Linked DNA regions of Homo sapiens: regions 1 and 2 are each linked to region 3. Evidence: fine-mapped expression QTL. A gene starts in region 3. Each other region holds a variant in brackets. All regions are shown on one strand. Distances are from middle to middle.

The links.
Region 1: its variant is fine-mapped to the expression of ZFYVE28 in lung (TOPMed, PIP above 0.99).
Region 2: its variant is fine-mapped to the expression of ZFYVE28 in thyroid (GTEx, PIP above 0.99).

Annotation. Positions count from the first base shown.
Region 1 is chr4:2,329,159-2,337,336 of GRCh38, reverse strand. ZFYVE28 (zinc finger FYVE-type containing 28) reads left to right here. Exons shown (of 13, transcript NM_020972.3): 6 at 1,543-1,632. Among named protein-coding and RNA genes, the nearest start is that of MXD4, 71 kb to the right of the region's middle. RefSeq lists enhancers at 2,418-3,215, 3,634-3,693, 3,216-4,013, 3,944-4,023, 4,014-4,811 and 2 more. The variant G/A (reference allele first, on the strand shown) is at 3,668.
Region 2 is chr4:2,347,855-2,356,032 of GRCh38, reverse strand. It overlaps ZFYVE28 (zinc finger FYVE-type containing 28), which reads left to right. Exons shown (of 13, transcript NM_020972.3): 2 at 1,960-2,100. LOC105374352 (a long non-coding RNA gene) reads left to right here and starts at 4,530. Exons shown (of 2, transcript XR_925056.3): 1 at 4,530-8,178. The variant G/A (reference allele first, on the strand shown) is at 4,451.
Region 3 is chr4:2,414,879-2,423,056 of GRCh38, reverse strand. It overlaps ZFYVE28 (zinc finger FYVE-type containing 28), which reads left to right and starts at 4,412. Exons shown (of 13, transcript NM_020972.3): 1 at 4,412-4,772. The coding sequence starts at 4,734. CFAP99 (cilia and flagella associated protein 99) reads right to left here and starts at 4,102. Exons shown (of 16, transcript NM_001193282.4): 1 at 3,964-4,102. RefSeq lists enhancers at 1-302, 5,693-6,251, 6,252-6,810 and silencers at 3,888-3,937, 4,178-4,407, 4,528-4,687.

The sequences.
Region 1 (8,178 bases), 86 kb after region 3:
AGAGGGCAGCTCTGGGGGAACCTGCTGTGTCTCGGGAGTGCCCCAGATGGAAGGCACCAGACGTGTCTTCCCACACTACATCCGGCTTCTCCTCACAGGTGGGCAGAGGGTAGAGGCCACCCCTGCCTTTACCTCTGCCCGGCCCCCTTCCACCGCCCCACGGTCGCTTTTCTGTCTGCCAGAAGGTCAGATCCTGCAGGTGAAGTCACTGTCAGAGGACAAAAGCTGGAAGGCTCTGGCATGATGGATTGGACGTCCAAACCTTGTCACCTTCCTCACCCCCTCACTCCTCACCTACTCACTCCTCATGTCCTCACTCCTCACCTCCTCACTTCCCCACCTCCTAACTCCTCACCTCCTCACTCCTCACCACCTAACTCCTCACCCCCTCACTCCTCACCTCCTCACTCACCTCCTCACTTCCCCACCTCCTAACTCCTCACCTCACCTCCTCACTCTTCACCTCCTCCCTCCTCACCTTCTCACTCCTCACCTCCTCACTCCTCACCTCCTCAATCCACACCTCCTCACCTCCTCATCTCCTCACTCCTCACCTCCTCACCTCCTCACTCCTCACCTCATCATTCCTCACCTCCTTACTCCTCACCTCCTTACTCCTTAGCTCCTTATTTCTCACATTCTCACTCCTCACCTCCTCAATCCTCACATCCTCACTCCTCAATCCTCACTCCCCACCTCCCCAGTCCAGGAATGAGTTTTTGCTGAGTTTTAAGTCTGTTGAACAAGTGTTTCTTTTTTAGGGAGTGGGGGGGGCAGGGGGAAGCCATCAATATTCTTATCAGGCTTTGTACAGTAATTTGGAGTCTGGTTTTCTCAATGGACTTTGGGGTTAAGATGTAACCTTGATGTTTCTCTTGTTCAAGTGGTACTATGGTGTTTGGAAGATTTGAAATTGACTATTATCACATTGTATGTTTGTTATTTTTAAAAAGCAAATTTTTACTCTTTGTGCTTTGAGAGATATTTCAAATTATCAGAAAATAAGATGACGGGAAATTCCTTTTATTTTGAAAAGTCACGATGCCAGCAGGCCTGCTCACGAGGTGCAGGAAAAGCCCTCCACAAGCCCCGGGGAGGAGAAAGGAAGCTGGTTTCTCAGGGAAGTGTTGAATTGTTTGGGGCAGTATTTTTGTTCCGTGTTCATTCTTGACACCGGAGTTGTTTCGGTCTCCTGGCTGAGCAGAGCCGTCCTCTGGGTTGCCTTACTGTCTTTGCTGGGCATCATAGCTGTCCTCACACATCCTCCCTGCCCCTGCCTCCTGGGGCAGAGGTGGGGACTGGCAGATGGGAAGGTCAAGCTGGAGCCACCTGCCAGGGCATTTAGGGAAGTGTGTGGCCTTTTCCTGCAGTCCCAGCCCCTTGCACATATGAGGACTGGGGGTGGCATGTGTCACCTCTTGACGTGGCCACCACGCGTGGCTGCAGGTACAGATTGAGCGCACTGCCTGTCCCTGCTGGGGTCCAACCTGTGGCTGTGGTGGGCCAGCCCTCATGCTGCTCACTGTCCGTCTCCCCGGACAGGGCCCTGGACTTCGGGTACCTGACTCAGGACATGATTGATGACTACGAGCCGGCCCTCATGTTCAGCATCCCCAGGCTGGCCATCGTGTGGTGAGTGCCTCCTGTGCCCAGGACCTCTGCAGAAACCTGCGGGACGGGCAGGGCTGATGGTGCCAGGTCCCGTGCGGGTGCCGGTCCATGGCGTCTCCACCTCACGGTGGCCGCTCAGCTGTCCCGATCAGTGACAGGCAGGCCTGCTGTCAGCCCTCAGCAGACCAGGGGACCACGTGTCCTGAGTGCCCCCTGTTCACCTTGCTGGTGAGGGAGGCTCTGTCACCCTAGATAGGGCAAGGTGGCCTAACACCTGCCACCTGCCACTGGACAGGTGAGATCCACAGGTGAGCTCATTAGTCACAGGAGACCATGAGGGTCACACAGGGGTCATGCTCGGAACAGAGTGGCCACGCAGGGGCTGTGGGAGGCAGACTTGGTGGTAACAAGAGGACGAGCTGCCCCCCGGGTCCCTCAGGAGGCTGTGATTGGCTTGTTTGAATAATTTGGGGGCTGGCAGGGAGGTGAAGCACATTGGGTTGAAGGGCAGGTGGGGGCAGTTGGTCTGGCTGATGGAATACCTGTGTGGAACCTTTCCTGCCAGCGGGGCCGTCTGGGAGAGCAGGGAACTCAAGGCAGCCTGTAGGGTCCTGTGGGGCTCAAGGACGTGAACACAGCACATGGAAGCTCAGGCCTGAAATCCACCGAGGCAGGATGCGCGGGGTCACCTGCTTAGCGTCTCTGAGCTGTCTGGGGCCAAGGTTAGAGCCCAGGGGTCAGGCTGCTCATCCACACCCTGACTCCAGACGGGGATTCCCCATGCCCCTGCCAGGCGGATGGTCACGGGGGCGGAGGAGTGAGTGGACCACAGAGAGCTTAGTGGAGCTTGCAGCTGGGGGGGAGGCGGAAGTGGGGAGGGGGAAGAGGGGAGGGGGAAGAGGGGAGGGGGAAGAGGGGAGGGGGAAGAGGGGAGGGGGAAGAGGGGAGGCGGAAGTGGGGAGGGGGAAGGGGAGGGGGAAGGGGGAGGGTCCAGTGGGCAGCGGCCAGCAGGTGTGGGACTGGGCAGAGTAGGGGATGGGGAGCCCTTGAGAGAGATGCCCGTGGAGATGTGGATGTCAGTGAAGTGGTCGGGGAGTGGGGGGTGGGCACAGAGGCCACGACTGGTCCAGGCTCAGGCTGGAGAGACCTCACTGAGGCCATGCTGAGGAGCCCCAGGGGACCCCGGGGCACAGGCACACGTGGCAGTGCACTGGGGTTGAGCATGGATACCCCTCCCGTGGGAAATGGGGGTGCAGAGGTGGGAGCACGCGGGGCGGTGGCAGTGCAGTGGGCTAGGGCCAGCGGCGGGGCCTGCAGGGGACAGAAGTGCTTAACCCCAGGATGCGCCGAACACCCCTTGTTGGAGTGGGGAGCAATGGGGGCTGCTGCCGGGGCCAGTCTGGACACCCCTGGGCCAGGCCGCTCACTCCCCTAGGTCCTGGTGCCACCTCCTCCGGGAGGGCTCCAGCGTGGTCTCTATCTGCTGGGCCCTGGCTCCCCAGAGTCCCCTCCAATAGCTCAGGGCCTGGCCTGTTTCCTGCGCCGTCCTTCCCGTGTCCTCGCAGAGGTTGCGTCTTTCACAAAGTTAGCAAACCAGAGAGAGTGAGCCTCACATCGCGCCAGAGGGAGGCTCGGAAATCCTCCTGCCGTTAGACTCAGGGAACTTCCTTTCACCTGAAGACCTCAGGGCTGGAGGGCAGGGTGTCCCCAGTGGCCAGCGACAAGGTGGCTTGGAGGGAAGTGTCCTGGCGGGGAGAGGCCACCCCAGAGCACAGAGCGCCCCTTCCCATGGGCCACAGGATTTGGTGACATTGTTTTTCTTTTCTAGACAAGTGTCTCTCTGTGGCCAAACTCACTTGAAGAAAATGACAGGCAGTTTTGGTCCTTATTCTTCTCTTTGTTTAAAAAACAGAACAGCAAAGATCCTGCGAGCCGGCCTTGTTTCCACCAGGGCGCAGGGCGCTGTGAGCCTTTGCCTCAGGTACAGGTGTCTCCTTGTCCCAAGGGCACTCACAGCAAATGAACAGCTCTGCTGTCCTTGTAAAAAGTTCTCCGC[G/A]AGTGCTTTGAGGTGTGGCACCAAGCCACCCGCCCACTCATGCCCGTGTCAATGAGCCGGTGAGCCCTGGCTGGACTTCCTCTTAAAGGTCGGGCCTGGAGTGTGCAGGTGACCCCAGGTGACCCTCCCCGCAGGCCGCACCCCAGGCATACTGTGTTTCGGGACTTTCACACTGAGTCTGCTGCCCGTGTTTGCCCGAGTACAGGCGACCGCAGAACAGCAGCCACTTCCCCCAACCAGTATCATCTGTGTCCTGCTTGCCGACCTCAGTCCACCTGCTGGTGGCCAAACCTCTGCTCCTCCTTCTGTCCTAGGCTTTCATCCTGGGAGGCAAGGGGAGGCGGGGGCTGGGGGATCAGGGTAGGGGAGGCCAGAGGAGGGAGGTGGGGGGGCAGCTTGGGGAGGGAGGTGGGGGAGTGTGGGGGGTCAGGGAAGGGCAGCAGGGGGGGTCAGGGAAGGGCAGCAGGGGAGGCCAGTGCTGCGGGGGAGGCCAAGGGAGGGAGGTTGGGGAGGGAGGCTGGAGCTTCTGTTGGCAGAGGCTTTGTCCCGCGGGTCCCCTCCTGGAGGCACTGGCGTGGGGTCCCCTCGGGCTCAGGACAGTGGGAGAGCCTGGAAAGGGAGTGAGGGACCCCCAGGAGGTGAAGGGGGCTTGGATTGAAGGAGGGAGGAAGGGCGAGAGGGCATAAGAGCCCAAAGCCAGAGTCCAGGGAGCAGGCCTGTCCAGGGGGGTGGCCAGCTGTGAGCCCCCACAGAGGCAGGCATCTAGCCACAGAGCCAGGCTGTGGATACGAGGAACCGTGGGGTGCACCAGGCTGCCACTGCAACCCTCTGTGCAGCGAGCCTCGAGCAGGGCGGGTGAGTGCTGAGCGGGTGAGTGCTGAGTGGGCAGCTGTTCCTAAGGCCGCCCCTCTGGGATGCTCACTGGGGCCCTGCAGCCCTGCACCACCAGCGGATCCCGTCTTGTTCCTCGTCATCCACAGCGACCGCTTTGAGCCGGACAGGCAGAGGCCACAGCTGCCCGTGGTGGGGCCCAGAACCTGCTCCTTCCTGTGTTCATTCAGTGAGCAAGTATTGAGTGCCTACTGCATACCTCGCCCTGTGCTTGTACCAGGGAGATGGACAGATGGGCTGACCCACAGTGCTGTGGAATGTTCTGGATGCTGGAAGGGGGACTCAGTGCAGGGACCCCATGGGGTGGACAGGAGCTGAAGGCGTGAGGGAGAGGCTCCCCAGGGCAGCCGGCCCAGAGGTGGGAGCTGTGCAGGTGGCAGGCAGGGGCACGTTGGTGCAGGTGGTGTATGCTCAGGGGCAAGTCCAGGGCTCGAGCAAGGACCAGGGGGCCGCAGGAACTTCTGCAGAAATGAAGACCCCTCTAGCCTGCATTCCTGGGCCCACACCCTCGCAGGATCCTGCCTCTGTGAAGTGGGCATCCTGGGACCCCCCAGGTGACCCCCAGGGAACACTGAGAGCAGAGGGGAGGCAGGGGTGCTGAGCGGGGCAGGAGCTGAGGGTGGAGCTCCTCTGTGGCTCCTGCCCGTGACTGTGCTGCTGCCCGAGAGCCCCAGTCCCTTCTCCAGCACACAGTGTCAGAACAGTGATGCCACATTTACCAAGCATGAGCTGCGGGCCAGGCTCCCGTCCCCTTCTGAGGGGCTCCCAGTGGCGAAGGCACCGCTGGGGGTCAACAGCTGGAGGCGGCAGAACCAAGCCCACCCGAGGGTCAGAGCCTGCTATTCACCTGTGACACAAGAAAGCAGAAAACTCTAGTTCTGTGGCTGGCAGAGGAGGCCTGCCTGGGGCAGAGGCAGTGGTAAACTGAGGCCTTCAGATTGGCAGGGGGAGGTGGAAGGGAGTGCTGGGTGGCACCCTTCCCCCTGTTTAGGGTGTCCCCAGCCTGGTGGGGTCTGGCCTTACCAGGCAGTGAGGACAAAAACTGGGGGTCACCCCTGTGGGGACTTGCTCTGAGCCGTAGGGGAGGGGCCCCACTTGCCCTGCACCCCTCAGCCTGTCCCCTCCCTAAGACCTGCATCCAGTCAGTCCCTCCTGCTGATTGAGACACGCGTCCTGGGGAGAGTGTCTCCACGAGGCTCAGACTCTTTGACAAACTGGTTTTACTTTTGGGGATTTATCTTAAAACAGTTTCTTTTTTTTGTTTTTAACTTTTTATTTTTATTTTTTAATTAAAAAAAAAATAGAGACAGGGTCTTGCTGTGTTGTCCAGGCTGGTCTCGAGTTCCCGGGCTCTAGCAATCTGCCTGCCTTGGTCTCCTAAAGTGCTAGGATTACAGGCATGAGGTACCGTGCCCAGCCCCGGCCTTAAAACAGTTCCTTTAAAGGAAGAAATGAAATAAAACCTCTAGACCCAGTGGTCACTTCCCAGTCCCCATCAGCACAGACCTGCCTGCCCGCCTCGCTGCGGCTTCGCCCGTCTGCACTCACAGCTGTGTGTGTGCGACGCTTCCCAGACCGGACCTGTGCAGAACCCAGGCCCCTCTCCTCTACCCCTCCCTCCCTTCCTCCCCAGCCCCTCCTTCCAGCCCATCCCAGAATCTACCCCTCCCTCCCTCCCCAGCCCCCTCCTTCCAGCCCATCCCAGCGTCTACCCCTGCCTTCCTCCCCAGCCCCCTCCTTCCAGCCCATCCCAGAACACGTGCAGGAGCCACCGCCCACGTGGCCTGCAGGATGGTTGCCGGATCCTCTTCAGGGGCCCTCACCCATCCACCTGTGTCAAAACAAGGTGTCATCTCTGCCCTGCTCAGACCCTTGCCGGAGCTCCCACCGTGATCTGCCTGCACCGTGCCCACACCAGTCCTCTCTCCCCAGTCCCCACGCACCCGCTGCCCTGGGTCTCCACCATGCTGTCCCCTTCGCTCAGGGTCCCCTTGACTGTCCTATCCCTACTGCCACACTGTCCCCTCCCCCGCACTGTCCCCTTTTCCATGATGTTTCCTCCTCCACGCTGTCCCCTCTGCTCCAGTGTCCTCTTGGCCATGCTGTCCTCTCCATGGTGCTGGCCCCTCCACTACACTGTCCCCTCCTCTATGCTGTCCCCTTGTCTATGCTGTTCCCTCCTCTATGCTATCCCATTCTCCATGCTATCCCATTCTCCATGCTGTCCCCTCCTCCATGCTGTCCCTTCCTCTGCAATGTCCTCTCCCCTGTGCTCCTCTGCACTGTCCCCTCCTCCATGCTGTCCCCTCCTTTATGATGTTCCCTCCTCCGTGCTGTCCCCTCCATGATGTCCCCTCTTCCGTGCTGTCCTCTCCTCTGCACTGTCCCCTACTCCCTGCTGTACCTCCCTCTGCGATGTCCCCACCACTGCACCGCTCACCCAAGCCCTCTCCCACCAGCAGGTTGCGTGACTTACTCTGTTATTTATTTTTCCATGTTACTGAGATAAAATTCATTACCCTATGACTCACCCATCTACAGTGCACAGTCGTTTTTGGTACATTCAGAATTGTGCAGCCATCACCACAAATTTCATAACATTTTCATTACTCACAAAGATGTCTCTTACTCCTGAGCGGTCACCTCCACCCCCTATTATCCTTCATCCTGCCCCTTAACCCTAGGGAACCACAAATCTATTTTCTGTTTCTATAGATTTGGCTATTGGGTTATTCATATAAATGGGATTTCTGTTATTTTTGTGTCTCCCCCACTAGACTATAACTCTTATTCACGGATGCATCCTGAGTGCCTGTCATGTCATAGTGTGGTGGACTTTTGCAGAATTTTGTTGCATTGATCTGAGGGGGCACAAATATATATCCACAAAGATTATCCCCGAAGTATTACTTGTAATCATAAAAATTTGAGAAGGGATGGATATCCAGAATTAAGGGATTGGTTAAAAACAATACTGTAGCCATTTAAATAATGATGGAGAAAAATCTCCTAATGCTATGCAAAAACATCCCCAGTGTATTAAGCACAAAAACTGTTATCAAATAGTATGTCTCTATTTTACAGAGTTTCTTAACATTGATAGGTAAAACTTTTGTAAACAGAAATTAAAGCAATAAACATTCTTCTTTATTGTGGTAAAATATACATAACAAAATTGGCCATTTTGACCCTTTCTTAGGGTTTTAATGGCAAAAATTGCAATTACTTTTGCACCAACCTAATATATAGGATTTACCCTTTTGTGACTGTCTTATTTCACTTCACATAATGTTTTCAAGTTTCCCCCATGTTGTAGCATGTGTCAGAATTTCCTACCTTTTTAAGGCTGAATAATATTCCATTGGATGTAATTAGCTGTTATTTTAAATAAGAAATGTGTGATAACATTCAAAAGAGTAAAATGCCTAGGAATAAATTTAATCAAGAAGGTGAAAGGCATGGATGCTGAAAACTAAAAAACGTTGCTGAAAAAATTAAAGACATAATTAAAGAGAAAGACATTCCATGTTCATGGATGGGAAGACTTAATATAGTTAGAATGGCAATACTCCATAAAGTGATCTACAGATTCTGTGCAATTGCTGTCGAAACTCCATTGG
Region 2 (8,178 bases), 67 kb after region 3:
AGGCCAGAGCACACGGAGGAAACGGCCCCGACGGAGATGGGAGTCTGTGGGGAACACGGCCAGCGCATTCGAACTGTGCGCGATTTGGTATATTCTCCTCTCCTCTGTCTTTCTCTCTGTGATTATAAAGAGTCCTTTTTATAAAAATAGGTTCAGGCCAGGCACAGTGACTCACTTCTATAATCTCCGCAACTTTGGGAGGCCAAGGTGGGAGGATGGCTTCAGGCCAGGAGTTCAAGACCAGGCTGGGCAACACAGGGAGACCCCATCTCTAGAAAAAATTTAAAATTAGCTGAATATAGTGATGTGTGCCTATAGTCTCAGCTACTTGGGAGGCTGAGGCAGGAGGATCTCTTGAGCCCAGGAGGCGGAGGTTGCAGTGAGCCATGCTCATGCCACTGTACTCCAGCCTGGGCAACAGAGTGAGACCCTGTCTCAAAAAATACGTATATAGGCTGGGCACAGTGGCTCAGGCCTGTAATCCCAGCACTTTGGAAGGCTGAGGCGGGTGGATCACGAGGTCAGGAGTTTGAGAGCAGCCTGGCCAACATAGTAAAACCCCATCTCTACAGAAAATACAAAAATTGGCCGGGCGTGGTGATGGATGCCTATAATCCCAGCTATTCGGGAGGCTGAGGCAGGAGAATCGCTTGAACCCAGGAGGCAGAGGTTGCAGTCAACTAAGATCACGCCACTGCACTCCAGCCTGGGCGACAGAGTGAGACTCTGTCTCAAAAAAAAAAAAAAAAAGAAGAATCATTATATATATATATATATATATATATATATATATATATATATATATATATATATATATATATATATATATATATTTTCAAGGACTTCATCACTTTTGTAAGGGGCTTCTTTGAATCCTCGAAACTCTGATCCAGGGGAACAAGCTGTTTGCATCCTGGGGCAGTGGGAACCTCACGTGCCAAGGGACGGTGGCCGTGCTGTGTGCGTAGAGCACCAAGGAGGCCAGGCGGGGTTGGGGCGTGTGGTGGTTGCAGTTGAAGACCAGCTTCTGAGCCCCTGCGTGTTTGGTGGGAGGGGAACCTCTGAGCGTAGAGTTTCCTGCCACAGTGCACTGGTGTGGAAACTGAGATGCTGTGAAGTTCCTAGAGAAGTGGGGGGTGTGTGGCAAATTGTTTCTGAATCATGGGAAATGGTTTATGATGCACTGTCAATCATTCTTCACTTAAGTGTAGTAAATTTTATTGTTATTCTGGGCCACTTCATATTTTGGTTTTGTGAATAAAAAAATATTTCCTGGCCGGGCACAGTGGCTCATGTTTGTAATCCCAGCACTTTGGGAGGCTGAGGCGCGTGGATCACCTGAGGTCAGGAGTTCGAGACTAGCCTGGCCAATATGGCGAAACCCCGTCTCTACTAAAAATACAAAAATTATCCAGGCATGACAGCGGGCACCTATAATCCCAGTTACTGGGGAGGCTGAGACAGTAGAATCGCTTGAACCCAGGAGGCGGAGGTTGCAGTGAGTTGGGATCGTGCCATTGCACTCCAGCCTGTGCAACAAGAGTGAAACTCCATCTCAAAAAAAAAAAAAAAAAAAAAATTTCCTGAGAGCTGCTTTTGTCGCCTGGAGCGCCGGGGACCCCACTCTTCCCAGAGCCCCTTTTCTGTGGGCTCTCCACCAGAGGGAGCGTGAGGACCTTGTGTCTGGGGTGCAGCAAAGGATCTGGATTCCCCACAGTCCTGGGGTGAAATGCAGGGGCCCTGGGGACCCTTGAATCAGGGGTTGAGCTGGCAGCCTGAGCCTCAGCTTTAGTTGTTTCCCTCTAGATCCTGGTGTGGAAAGCTGATAAAAGAGCCGGCTGCTGCTCAGGGTGGAAGGTCCCAGGCTGAGCCCACACATGGCCTGGGGACAAGGCAACCAACCGAGGCATCCCCTCCAGTTCCCCACCCACTCATGGCCCTGGCCCCTCTCTCCTGCAGAGGTCGGATCCGCAGCTGCTTGCCCGGTTCTACTATGCCGACGAGGAGCTGAACCAGGTGGCCGCGGAGCTGGACAGCCTGGATGGGCGGAAGGACCCCCAGCGGTGCACGCTGCTGGTCAGCCAGTTCCGCTCCTGTCAGGTGAGCCACGGGGCAGCAGAAGCTGGCTGGCCCCGCTGGGCATTGGACAGAGTGGCCTGTCCTCAGTAGACCAAGGCTTTGTCACCTGCTGGCCCCCTGTGGTGGCGTTGTCAGGGTCGGGTGCTAGAGAAGCCAGGCCCAGGAAGAGGGACCATCCCGGGCAGGATGCGTGGGGTGGGTAGCCGGGCTGGAAGTGAGAAACCGCACGGGACACTTGGGGGAGCAGAGGCTGGGAGAGCGGGGGCAGGGGGTGCGGAGTGAGCAGGCTTCTGAGCCAAGGGGCAGCCAGTGTGGGAGGGGTGGGCCTGCCCAGGTGCTGGTGCAGAGCTTGGGTACCATGCAGTGGTCACACTCTGCCACTGACTAATGGTGCTGCCAGCATCTGCTGCATAATTGACAGATGGCCCTGGAAGCTGCCGCTAAAAATACCCTGGCCGAGGTTTTCTTCCCAGTACACCAAGCACTCAGAGGCATTTCCAACACAACGGCAAACGGCATGCTGCAAAGTTTTATCAAGTGATGACGAGGGGTTTTCACAAAGTTCCGGAATGTTCTTGGTGTACTCTTCCCACAGGGTCTTGCTGAATCCTTGCGGCCATGGGAGGTGGGGCCTGACACATGCTCCTCCAACAGGGGGGAGTCTATCACTGTGTCACCGTGGTCCTGAGGGTCCCACCCTGTGGGGCTCCTGCAAAGTGGCCAAGCTGGCTGCACCCCAGCCCTGGCTCTGGGCCTGGCCCTGCTGCGGTGGGAACTCAGCAGCATTAGGGCCCTGTGTGTGGCCAGGACAACTTTTCTGGCCGGATCAGGCTCTGGGCTCTTTTTTGGGCTGTTCAGTGGCAGCCTCCACCTTCCATGTGTTCAGATGTTCCCACAGATGTTCTGGCCCCTCCAGGGACAGCCTCTGTGGGTGGGGAGAGTCCCTGCCCCCAGGAGCTCAGGTTAGAAAGACCTTCTGCCCAGGGGACAGGTGCTGGGGGCCCTGGAGCCTGGAGGAGGAAAGTGCCACGGAGGAGAGGTGCTAGACCTGCCCCGTGGCCCCACCGATGAGGAAGGGGGATCAGATGCTATTCCTCATGGCAACCTTTGGGGAGGGGCTCTGTTCCCTTTACATGCTCTGTGACCTGTGTGCTTTTTTGTTGACTGACAGAGTTGATGATAAAGCCTGGTTTTAAGTGAGTTTGAGAGGTGGGGGCTGCCAAGCTAGGTGGCCCCTTCTCAGGCTTCCCGCTGCCACAGGCTTTAATTGGGATGTATCACCGTGAGAACTGCCCTGTGAGAAGGATCTGGAGGGGGATGCTCCCAGCATAGTGAAGGCCTTAAACACTCAGGTTCTTCTCCTTGCTGCTGGGGTCTTTGAAGGAACTGAGAGGGTGTGGACACTGTCCAGGTCCCTCAGCATCATCTGATTCGGGCTCACTTCTGTCCACTCCGCTCCAGGGCCCTGCCTCTGGCTCATCTCGTATCCCACTGGCTCCTTTGTGACCCTTCTTCCCTCTTCCACGCCTCCCCCTCTTCCTCCCTCCTCCTATCTCCCCTTCCTCCCCCAGCCTCCTCCATGTGGGTCCCACGCCCAGTCCTTGGCCTCTTCCTGTCCACCCCCCGACATGGCGGCCTCATCCTGCTCCATGTCTGTGCTGAGCACCCCCAGGGGAGGCTCTCAGCTTCTCCTCCCCGCAGATCCAGGTGTGCTCCCCGGTGTTCCTCCCAGCTCCCTGAGGGCATCTCACAGGGCCCACCTTACGCCCAGCACAGCTGGACATTGAACAACATGGTTTGAACTGCACAGGTCCATTTATACATGCATTGTTTCAACCTAACTTGGATCTAAAATACAGTATTCTCAGGACACAAAACCCACATATATGGAGGGCTGTGCAAGTTCCGCTGGTCCAGCCGTGGGACTTGAGTATGTGCAGATATGATATACGCTGGGGGTCCTGGAACCTGTCCCCTGCGTGTACTGAGGGATAATTGTATTTCATGTCTTTTTATGACATTATAAGTGGTATTGCTATTACATGTCAATTTTTAAAAATAAGCCAGAACCATAAACGAAGTGTTTCCCTGAGTTCTGCGAGCCACTCTACAAATTAATCCAACCCCAGAAGGGGGCCATGGGAGCCCCAGTTTACAGCCAGCTGGACAGAAGCACAGACCATGCCTGGACTTGGGATCAGCATCTGAAGGGGCGCCGTCTTGTGGGACTGAGCCCTCACCCTGTGGGGTCTCACTCTCTCGCCCAGGCTGGAGTGCAGTCATACGATCTCGGCTCACTGCAACCTCCACCTCCCAGGTTCAAGCGATTCTCCTGCCTTAGCCTCCTGAGTAGCTGGGATTACAGGCATGC[G/A]CCACCATGCCCTGCTAATTTTTGTATTTTTAGTAGAGACGGGGTTTCACCATGTTGGCCAGGCTGGTCTCAAACTCCTGAACTCAAGTGATCCACCTGCCCTGGCCTCCCAAAGTTCTGGGATTACGGGCATGAGTCACCGTGCCTGGCCCTAAATGTCAATTTTTGATTGTTTGGTGCTCCTATATGGAAATACTATTGACTTTTGTATATAGATCTTGTATCCTAATACCTTTCTGTGGGAATCTAGGTAATGGTTTTTCCTACTTTCTACTCTCTACTCTCACACAGTCACTCAACACTCCATGACCAGATGAGTAGGGTATTCCCCACACACCGAGTCATTCCCCAGCAGGTTCTGCAGGGGACAGCAGTGGGGGTCCTCTATTCAACCTCATCTTGACACTGTCCACCCGGAGTGACCTCAGAACCCACAGGGTGAGGGCTCAGTCCCACAAGACGGCCCCCCATTCAGATGCCAATCCCAAGTCCAGGTGTGGTCTGTGCTTCTGTCCAGCTGGCTATAAATCGGGGCTCCCATGACCCCCTTCTGGGTTGGATAAATTTGTAGAGTGGCTCACAGAACTCAGGGAAACACTTCGTTTATGGTTCTGGCTTATGAATAAAGAATGTAGTAACAGGTACAGATGAACAGCCTGATGAAGAGGTGCACAGGCTAAGGTCGGGAAGGGTCCCAAGGGCAGGAGCTTCTGTCCCGTGGAGTTGGGGTGTGCCCTTCTCCTGGCAGGCGGATGTGTTCGCCAGCCCAAAGGAAGCTTTCTGAACCAGTCCTTTTGGGTGTTTTTGGAAGCTTCATTATAGAGCCATGATTGATTATATATCATTGGCTGTTGGTGAGAACACTTCCCAATTCTTCAGTGCCTCTCCCCTCCCCGGAGGTTGGGGGTGGGGGCTGAAAGTCCCAACCCTCTAACATGCGTTGATCTTCCCAGGGACCAGCCCCCCATCCTGAAGCTGTCTAGGGCCCCCCAGCCACCAGTGAACTCCTATCACTCTGGAGAGTCCAAGGCTTTTTAGGAGCTGTATGTCAGGAAATGGGAAGATGACCAAACGTATATTTTACAATATCATACTTTCTTTCTTTCTTTTTTTTTTTTTGAGACGGAGTCTCGCTCTGTCGCCCAGGCTGGAGTGCAGTGGCGCGATCTCGGCTCAGTCCAAGTTCCGCCTCCCAGGTTCACACCATTCTCCTGCCTCAGCCTCCCGAGTAGCTGGGACTACAGGCGCCCGCCACCTCGCCCGGCTAATTTTTTGTATTTTTAGTAGAGATGGGGTTTCACCATGTTAGCCAGGATGGTCTCGATCTCCTGACCTCGTGATCCACCTGCCTCGGCCTCCCAAAGTGCTGGGATTACAGGCGTGAGCCACTGCGCCCGGCCTACAATATCATACTTTCTAAATACACTTATTATTTCTGGCAGCTTTTTGTAGATTCTGTTAAATTTTTTGCCAATAAAGATAATCTTCACTTCTTCCTTTTCTCTCTGGATGCCGAGTGTGTGTGTGTGTGTGTGTGTGTGTGTGTGTCTGTGTGTCACCCTATTGAACTAGCTAGAATTCCAGTACAAAGTTGAATAGAAGTGGTGAGAGCAGACATCTTTTGTTAATGATGGAACTCTGAATGCTTTCTCCCCAAAGATAAGCGTGATGTTAGCTGTAGGATTTTCGTAGCTACCCTTTGTCAGGCCAAGGCAGTTGCCACCTACTCATAGCTTGCTGAGAGTTCTTATTAGGAATAGATGTTAGATTTTTTTTTTCAGATGCTTTTTTTGTGTGTCAACGGAGATTATCATGTTATTTTTATTATGGTAAATTACATTGATGGTTTTTTTTACTCGATAAATACTGACTTTTTATTAGTATCCACTCCATCACTCAACAGCAATAGCAGCATGCAGATGCCATGAGGGCAGGGCTGTGTGTACACACAACACTCACCAGTACATCCCAGTGCCTAGTACACAGTAGGCACTCAGTTATATCATTGAAACAGGGAACGCTTGGCTGATTCATTTACATTTTAATTTATTTTATTTTTTTTATTATTATACTTTAAGTTTTAGGGTACATGTGCACAATGTGCAGGTTAGTTACATATGTATACATGTCCCATGCTGGTGCGCTGCACCCACTAACTCATCATCTAGCATTAGGTATATCTCCCAATTCTATCCCTCCCCCCTCCCCCCACCCCACAACAGTCCCCAGAGTGTGATGTTCCCCTTCCTGTGTCCATATGTTCTCATTGTTCAATTCCCACCTATGAGTGAGAATATGCGGTGTTTGCATATTTTCTTTTTGAATAGTGTGACTTACTCTTTTTGGCATATGATAGCTATGGTATCACATAAACAATTGTAAACTGTGTCGAGCTGCCAAAAGTTTGAATCTCATGCCAGTATATACATTCAGCCTTCTCACCATAGCTATTTGAGAGTTATAATTATCTATAGCACTGAAAGAGACTTTGGGCTCATCTGGTCCGATTCTCTTATTTCATGAATTAGAACACTAAATCCACTCAGACTGGGTGACTCGTCTGTCAGAACATGCAATAAACAGAAAACAAGGGGTTGTTTGCCTGATGCCATAGCATCCAAAGGTCAGGGTAGCTGGAACTCTTGGTGTCTTCTTGTCTTACAAAATGATGGAAGACGCATCATTTTAGTTCTCTGGTAGAAAGAGGATCAGAGAACCAGCTGGGAATCACAAATATGCTACAAAGATAAAAGACAGAATTTGGCCCTAAATAAAAATAGATTCTTAAAAATAGAGAAGAGATCAGATATGTTGCTAAGAAAATGCAGATGTTAGACCATATCCATGGTTCACAGTCCTTGTGAAAGCTTAAAAAATATAGATGCCAGGACCCAATCCCAGAGATTCTGCCTTATTTGGTCCAGGAAGAGCATAAGCATACATTGATTGATTTTTGAATGTTAAAAAAAATTACTCCTGCATTCCTGGGATAAATCCCACTCGTTCATGGTACATTATCCTTTTACGCATTATTGAATTCAGTTTCCTAAAATTTTGTTAGGAATTTTTGGATCAATATTCATTAGGGATATGGGCCCACAGTCTTTGTCTGATTTTGGTGTCAAGACAGTGTCATAGATGAGTTGTGAAGGATTCTGTCCTCTTCAGTTTTATGGAAGAGTTTGTGTAGTGTTAGTTCTTCTTAAATGTTTGGTAGAATTCACTATTAATCTATCTGGAACTGGAGTTTTCTTTGTAGGAAGATTTTTAACTACAAATTTAATTTCTTGAATAAATATAGGGTTTTCACATTATTTCAGAAATTTCTTCTTGAGAGAGATTTGGTAGTTTATGCCTTTTAAGAAATTTCATCTAAGTTGTTGAATTTATTGGCATAAGTTGTTTGTAATATTTCCTTATAATCCTTTTAATATATGTAGGATCCACCGCGATGTCACCTCTCTCGTTCCTGTTATTAAGTTGTATCTTCTGTTTTCATTCTGAACTGTGTTGATAGAGTTTTATCAATTTTACTGATATTCTCAAAGGAACTATTTTAGCTTCATTGATTTTCTCTATTGCTTTAATCTTTTCTCTTTCATTAAATTTCTGCTCTGATTGTTGCTATTCCTTTCTTCTGTTTGCTTTGGGTTTCATTTACTCTTCTCTCTCTAGTTTCTTTTTTTATTTTTATGTAGTAGACTTAAAAACAGAACCTTTATAGTTTC
Region 3 (8,178 bases):
CATCTTCGCCAGGGTCAGCCACACTGAGACGTTTTTTAAAACTCCACAGCGTAACTGGGGACTTCTCTACAAAAAAATTAAAGAATGACTCAGGTGTGGTGGCACGCCTGTAGTCCTAGCTCCTTGGGGGGCTGAGGTGGGAGGATCCCTTGAGCCCAGGAGGTTGAAGGTGCTTTGGGCTATGTCTGTGCTACCACACTCTAGGCTGGGTGACACATTGAGATCCTGTCTAATAAATAAATGTAAAGGTCTACTTCTAGAGAAACAATGTTAAAGAGTGAGTTTTCTTGCCCTGCCTCCACGTCACGTTGTGGGTCAGGCTGCCCTGGGATGGGGTCCCCTTGCCCCAGCCTTTTTGAATCTGCTCTGGATACAGCTCTGCCTGGAGGAACAGGGTATACACCCAGGAAAAGGGCCCCTTCTTGCGCCTGGTGGGGGCGGTGAGAGTGGATGGTCTGCATGTGTGTGGTGGGAGCTGCTGCCAAGGTGGAACAGTTTCCCTGCCGTCTCCCCCTGTCCTGGAGCTGGAGCATTCTGGAGAAAGGATGATCCTAGGTACCCTTTGGTGATGCAAATCGAGGAGGAGGAAGAGGGCCATGCCAAGCCCGCCCCCCAATCCAGGGCGGACCTGGTAGGAATGAACTGGAAGGAATAAATGGACAAACCAAGTTGAAGATGGGGACGGGGGTGAAGAGCTCCTTTGGAGTCCAGCCTGACTCAAATTGTCCTGCCCTGCCCCTGGAACCCTGGTTCACTGTCCGGCCTGAAGGTCCCTGGGGCGGGGCCTCTGCACCCCTGAATCTGGCGCAGAGCAGGTGTATGTGAAGGTGAATGTAAGGAAAAGAGATGCTTGAATTCTGAATCCCACTGAAATTAGCCTAGGAACTTCATCAAAACAATCACCTCTTTGGGGAGGAAATAGGTACTAAAATTCATCCAACTGTGACGCCTGCTTTCAGCATCTCAGCTACATTCATGCATTCTCAAATTCTCAGCCTGATTTTATTTTTTTCCTGATTTAGGGTCTCACTCTGTCACCCAGGCTGGAGTGCAGTGGCTCGATGATAACTCACTGCAGCTCAAGTGATCCTCCTGCCTCAGCCTCCGGGGTAGCTGGGACTCTAGGCATGTACTACCACGCCCGACTAATTTTGTGCTTAATTTTTTTTTTTTTTTTGTAGAGACAGGGGTCTTACTATGTTGCCCAGGCTGGTCTTGAACTCCTGGCCTGAAGCGATCCTCCCACCTGAGCATTCCAAAGTTCAGCTTTAATAGTGAAGTACCATCTATGTGGGAAGTGGGATTTAATTCTCAAGTTTAAAGATTTTTTTCTCATATTGATTTTAACTCCATTGATCAGGACTTGACTATCTTATATTTAAGGCAACTTTAAAGGTGGGCTGGACTAGGCTGGGCGCGGTGGCTCATGCCTGTAATCCCAGCACTTTGGGAAGCCAAGGCGGGCAGATCACTTGAGATCAGGAGTTCCAGACCAGTCAACATGGTGAAAACCCATCTCTACTAAAAATACAAAAATTAGCCAGGCGTGGTGGCAGGTGCCTGTAATACCAGCTACTTGGGAGGCTGAGGCAGAGAATTGCTTGAACCCGGGAGGCAGAGGTCGCAGTGAGCTGAGATCGTGCCTCTGCACTCCAGCCTGGGCGACAGAGCGAGACGCCATCTCAAAAAAAAAAAAAAAAAAAAAAGGGTGGGCAGACTAAAGCTTCTCTTTCCTTAGGAAATATTTTATAGACACAAATGAGATTATATGAGGAGGTTTAAATTCCATCAGACACAAAACAGCTCAACACTCTCAACCACTAGGAGATAACTCATTTACCTAAGATCTCAAATGTATGTTAATTAAAATATAGTCTTTTCTCCCGATTAAAGCCAGTCTCCTAAGGGTTGCTACCAAGTCATGCCCCTATGGCTTGTGCTTAAAGCACAACCCCACGTGGCAGCTTTTGCTAGTTGCTTTTCAATCTCCACTACCCCTTTCCTCCCAAATAAGAAAACTCTGATTTTTAGCTGGGTCTACTGCTGCCCAATTGAAAGATGGCATTTCCCAGCCTCCCTGGCAGCTGGGGCATGGTTGTGTGGCTAAGTTCTCCCACCACCTTCAAGAAGTGGAAAGGTGTGAGACTTCTGGAAAGTCTCCCTGAACGAGAGAGGCATATCCATCTTCTCTTTTGCAGCTGGTTCCTGGGCCGAGGAGGTGATGGCAGGAATGTGGGCAGCCATCCTGGATCATGAAGAAACGTGAATGGCAGATAGAAAAGCTGATCCTTGAGGACTTTAGGGCTGCCATACCAACCACGATTGCCTCTCCATGGACCTCTTTTATAAAAATATGAGTAATATTCTTGTTTAGGCCACTGTGATGTTGGGATTTTTCAATACATGCAGCTAAACCTAACTGATACCCCACTTCCCCAAGTTCAGCCTTCATCCCATGCACAATTTCAAACTATAAAACACAGGAAGGGAGCCTCTGAGCAGATACAACTGCTCCAGGCCTTGGAGTTGGCCAAGGATAGACCCACAGAGAACAGCCATTCACTCAGTGGACAAGCCCATCAAGTGTCTACCCCAAGATCCTGTGCTGAAGAAATGATGGCTTTGGGAGCAGCAGGTTTTATGGGGGAAGACTGAGAGTGTGGTTTGGGACACGTTAAATTTGAGAGGATCTGTTAGGCGTCCAAATGGTGAAGAACAGGTAAACAGGTCTGGAGTTTCAGGGTTGAGGCTAGAGATATAGGTTTTGAGAAGTTTGGGAGAAAATGGTTGTTTATAAAACCATGTAACTGTAGGAAATCCCCCAGGGAGGGAGTGGATAGAGTAGGTTCCAAGGACTGAGTCCAGGGTCTCCAGTGTTGAGAGGTCGGTGAGCAGGGGAGGCATCCAGCCAAGGAGATCAAGCAGGAGTGGCCAGGAGCGAGGAGGAGAAGTGGACAGTGGGATCTGTTTCAGCCAAGTGAGGATGCTGTGTCACGGAGAGGGCACAGTCGGCTGGGTCACGTGGTAGTGACAGTTCAAGGAAGAGATGAGCGCTGACCCCGATCATCGGATTTTGCAACATCAAGGTCAAGGATGACTTTGATAAAGAGCTTCAGAGGAGTGGTTGGGTGAAAATCTGATGGGAGTAGTTTCCAGAAAGAACAAGTGGGAAGGAATTGGAGATAAGGGGAAACTCCAGAGGGGTTTTGCCCTTCAGAGGGTCGACTGGGTGGTAGGAAGAGGAGAGTAGGGAAAATCAATCAGTTACTCAAAAATAAACATGGACCCTACCCCCAACTAAGAGAAATCTTAGATGCCAGCGCGCCTAGGCTCACATCGCGTCTGTTGGAATAAAGTGGTCATGGAGCCCACGGACCTTTCTGAGCACCTGGCACTGGCCAGTGAGGACAAGCAGGAACAGGTCAGACTTCTCAATTCTGAACCGAGGGGGGCATGACTTCCATCTCCTGTGTCTTACATCTGCACGTTTCACAACAAGCCAGAGACGTGGTGGTGGTGCGGCAGGGAAAAGTGCAGCGCTGTGGGGTCAGGCCGACCCAGATCCGCCGTGATCTGGATGCAACCCCCACAGCCAGGGCACGCCGGCCTCGTTGTGCCTGCTTCTCTGGCTGTCAATGGGAAGTTTAAGTGAGGCCACGTGTGGGTTTTTAGCTCTCTGCTTGACACATAGCAGGTACTCAGATTGAGGTGAGCGTTTTAAGGTACAAATTAGGGCACCACTGGGGGGAGTAGCGAGGGCGGAAGAGTATCTTTTTAGAACGCACCGCTGATAGTGGTGATTTAAAAAAAAAAAAAGAGGCACCGTTCACTTTCATCGGGGAGCTGGGAAGAAGACAGAAGAGGTGTTTGGGAGAAGCAAGATGAGCAGCGAGCGAGAGGGAACCGGCCGGCAGGTCATGAAAATCGGCGGCGCGTCGCCCCGCACCTGTCCCGCCCCCGTACCTGGCGGGCGCTCGGGGCAGCCGAGCCCTCCTGCCGCCGCCACCTGCCACCGCAGCAGTTTCCTGGGCCAGCTGGGGCTAAGGTGTTGGCAGTCGTCGTCCGTCAGCTCCCGGTAGGCAGGACGCCGCGGCTGTTTGGCGTCGTCACCTAGCAACCGGCGGCACGCTCCGCCGCCATCGGGTGGACTACAACTCCCACAATACACAGCGCCGCGGCGCGGCCCGGGACGCCAAGCCCTGGGCGCCACCTCCCCGCCATGCCTTTCGGGACTTGTAGTTTCTTGGATACCCGGGCGCGGCGGGTCGCCCCGCCGGCAGGGAGCGCGCCTCGGGCGGGGTGCGGCGCCCGCGCAGGGATTGGGCCGCCTCCGCCCCGCCCGCCCCGCCCGCAGCGCGCGGTGGGCCCGGGGCTCGCGGCGCCCTAGGCGCATGTGCGGCGCGGGGCGGCCGTGACCAGCGGAGCGCTGGGTGTCAGTGAGCAGCGAGGAGCCGCGCGCCCCCGTGCCCGCGTCTGTCCGTGCGCCCGAGCGCCCACTCCCGGGTCTGAGGTCTGCCCGGCGCGCCGCTTGCAGAGCATACTCAGGGCCGCGCACCTGCCCCGCGCACCTGCCCGCCGCCCGCTCGGCGCTCCGGGCTTCGCTAGCCAGCCTCCCTGCGACAGCGCGGGGGCTCCGGCCGTGCCTCCGCGTCCGCCCCGCGCCTCAGCCGGGCCCGGGCGCAGCGCTGCGGAGGGCGAGGGCCGCCCGGAGTCCGGCCAGGGCCGGCGCGGCGATGATGAACAGGTTCCGAAAGTGGCTCTACAAACCCAAGGTGAGCGGCCCCGCTCGGGCCGGACGCCCCCCGCGTCGCGGCCTCTCCCTTCCCCAGGACCGCCCGTCCGCCCTACAAGACGGACTCCCTTTCCCTGTCCGTGGCCGGCCTCTTCCCCCACCGCCGACATCCTTCCCTCCACTCCAAGACTTGGACAGATCTTCATCGCCCTGTCTCTGAGGCGGATCCGAACCTCCCTCCCGGCTTCCTAAGCCCGGGTCCAGGACTGACCCTCCTGCTCCTCCTCTCGGGCCGGGGCGCACTTTCCCTCCCCCTCTATCCAGGGCCACAACGGGCCCCTCTCCCTCCTCATCCCGGTCCTGGACGGTGCCCTCCTACACTTCGTGGTCCCCAGCCCGCGGGCCCGGAGCAGACCCCCTACTACTTCTCCGTCTCCCCTCCCTGCACCAGGAATGCCCCCTCATTCCCGTCCTGCCCCCACCCCCATTGTCCTGGGCCCGGAATAGATCTCCCTCCGCACTCCAGAACAGACCCTCTCCCCACTTCCCCAGGTTCTGAGAGAACCCACATTTCCCAATCCCTGGGTCCAGGGCAGACCCGTCCTTCCATGTCCAGAGAGGATCCTGATGGCCCTGCCAACGGCCTCCCTTCCCGAACCAGGACTGACCCACACCTCGGCCCAGTTCGCGTCCCCTCCCTTGTCCCTATCCTTGTCCCTTCCCCACCCACGTCCTCTGGAATCCGGGACAGGTCCTCCGCCCGGCCCTTGGGGCGAGCGCGCCCGTGGCCAGCAGCCTCGGCGGGGCGGGAGGTGCGGCTCTCCAGCCGGCGCCCGCGCCTCTCCTAGCGCCGCGGGGTCGGGGTCCGGGCGGCGCGCCCCGTGCCTCAGCGGCTGCGCCAGTCGCACTGCGGGCGCTGCGTCCCCGCCGCCCGCCTGGGGCTCGTGCCCGCTGCAGCCGGAGCAGGGCCGGGCGCGCTCGGCGCGGGATGAAGGCGCGGCGGTGTTCAGGATCCCGGCGCAGGGTCCAGGGCGCATCTGGGCGTCCGAGGGTGGCACCCTGGGGCCGGCGCAGCGGGGAGGCCCGGGCCCTGAGATCTTGGGGGAGGTCACGGCTCGGGTGGGGTCACCGCGGCGACCAAGGGCGGGAGTGGGGCCAGCGCTTCGTCCGGGCAGCTCGGACGTCCGAGGCCACCGCGTTGCCGACCTACCCCTCCTCCCTCCACTGGCCGCCTTTCTCCGTCCAGCGTCCCAGGCCTCCGCCTCCACCGTGGGTGAGCTGTCACGGCAGAGGTTTCCTGAAATCCGTGCCTCGCGTGCGCCCATTCCAGGAAGGCGGGAGGTGGGTTTGGAAGATCGGCACGGAGGTTTGAGGGCTCACTCAGGGCCCCGAAGGGCGCGTGCTTCACGGCCTTTGAGGTCGGGGAATTCTGTTTGTCGTTGCCGGAGTGTTGGGTTGAGGGCTTACGGTACATGGGGCGCCCCTTGCTCGGCCTTGGCTTGATTGGGAGGGGACTCGGGGGGATTCAGGGTTCCTGTGGCGTCACTCCCTGCTCCCAACCTCCCTGTCCCTAGCAGCGACTTCTTAAGGGTTCGTCCCGAGCCTTGCGTTTCCTGGCGCTGGGTGTGGTTTGGGGCCGAGCCGTCTGCGCCCAGCCTCTCCTCCTGCGGCGCCTTCGAGCCCCTCTCGGTCCTGCCTGCTGCCCCCATGTGCCTCTGCCGGGGTAGGGCGGTGGCCTCCGCTCTGGATAGCTGTATGAATGGTGTTTGGTTCCAGTGACTTTTCCTCACCAGTTACTGAAAACCAAGTCTGCTTGTAAAACGGCGTTTTGGGGGCGTGCAGCAGCATTATTTTCTGTGACAAATGGCGGGAGGCAGCTGGAGAAATGTGTCTTAGGTCTTAACTAACATTCTGGTGTCGCTGAAGGCACTTGCTGGGACACTAGGGGATGCCCCTCCGGACGTGGCTGTGGAAGAGGCCGCATTTGGGGGATCACCCTTCTAATCGTGTTGAAAAGGAAGGAAAAATAATTGTAGACTCTGTTTCATGAGTAGCTGAGTAATTTCAGGATGGCCTTGTCTGTTTCCGTTTAGGGAAGACAGGTTAAAGGTAGAACATGGTACTAGACGTTGTCCTGAGAATTAGGAATTGCGTTCCCAACTTTTCCTCTTCAGCAGGCAGCTGCCTTTCCAGGCAGGCGGCGGGCACCAAGAGGGCACAGCCAGTGAATCAGCTGATCCCAGGGATCAGCCCAGAGCTGTGTGCCTCCGGAGAAGGGATGGAACAGGATTGATGTGGATCTCTCCTTTTTCTCGTTGTCTTCTCCTGGCATGCTGTCTGGTAGTAGCTCCAGAGCTCTGGACTTGAGACGTATCTCCATTTCAGATCTGTCTCTGGCCATAGCATTTTTCTGGGAGCTGGTGCCCTGTGGGCAGTCTGAACTTGGGCTGTCTCTTATTTGAGAAATGTCTTTGGAGTTAAATATCTTGATTGTTTGAAGGGTCGGAGTATGTTATGTCACTCCATAGCTTTTCATTTTTCAAACCAAAGCTCAGATTCTTGCCTTGGATTATGAATTGAATTTTATGCTTCCCCTTCCTGTCTAATTTAACACATTTTGGCACAAATAAGCACAAAGTCAGTCCTGGGAAGATTCTGGGCCTGGAAGAGTTGAAGTGTTAAACATTAGCTGTGGGAGGATGTGTCTGGGGGAGACTGTTGCCTGCAGTCAGGAATTTTTTTCCCACTTTGTATTTAGATAGATGTACAATTCAAACTGAATTTTTAATTGAATTCCTGCTTTGGTTTAAAACTGCACAGCGAGCTTCTTTTTATAAATTTTTAAGTGTGTGTGTGTGTGTGTGTGTGTGTGTAGAGACAGGGTCTCACTATGTTGCCCCGGCTGGACTCAAATTCCTGGCCTCAAGCAATCCTCCTGCCTCAGCCTCCCGAAGCACTGGGATTACAGGTGTGAGCCACTGTGCTTGGCCAGCACTGAGCTTCTTGTTCATCACAATATGGTGGAAAATATTCTGAAATGAAAATATTATTCACTGTTCTTATAGTTATAAAAAGCAATTGGAAATGCTGAAAAATATTCCTGTGTGACATACATTTTGATATCTGAATAAAAATTAGCTACTACGTTAGCTACCTAAGTTGAGTAAAAGAATGCCTGATGAATAATACAAAAGTTTAACATTAAAATGACATTTGCAAATTATATTTCTATTCACTTTCTTAATCAGTCTTTTAAACACCAATATGATTTTTCTTGGTATAAAGTGTTCAGATCTTGTAAGTATTATCCTGACTTTGAACACTCCCAGGAAGAGACGGTGCAGGAAAACCTGTCAGCTTGTCCTGCTTTATTGATGTTGGTGAAATACTTTCTTGCCTTTCTTTAAAGTCTTTTCAAGAGAGTTTATGCTTTAGAAAGGCAAACC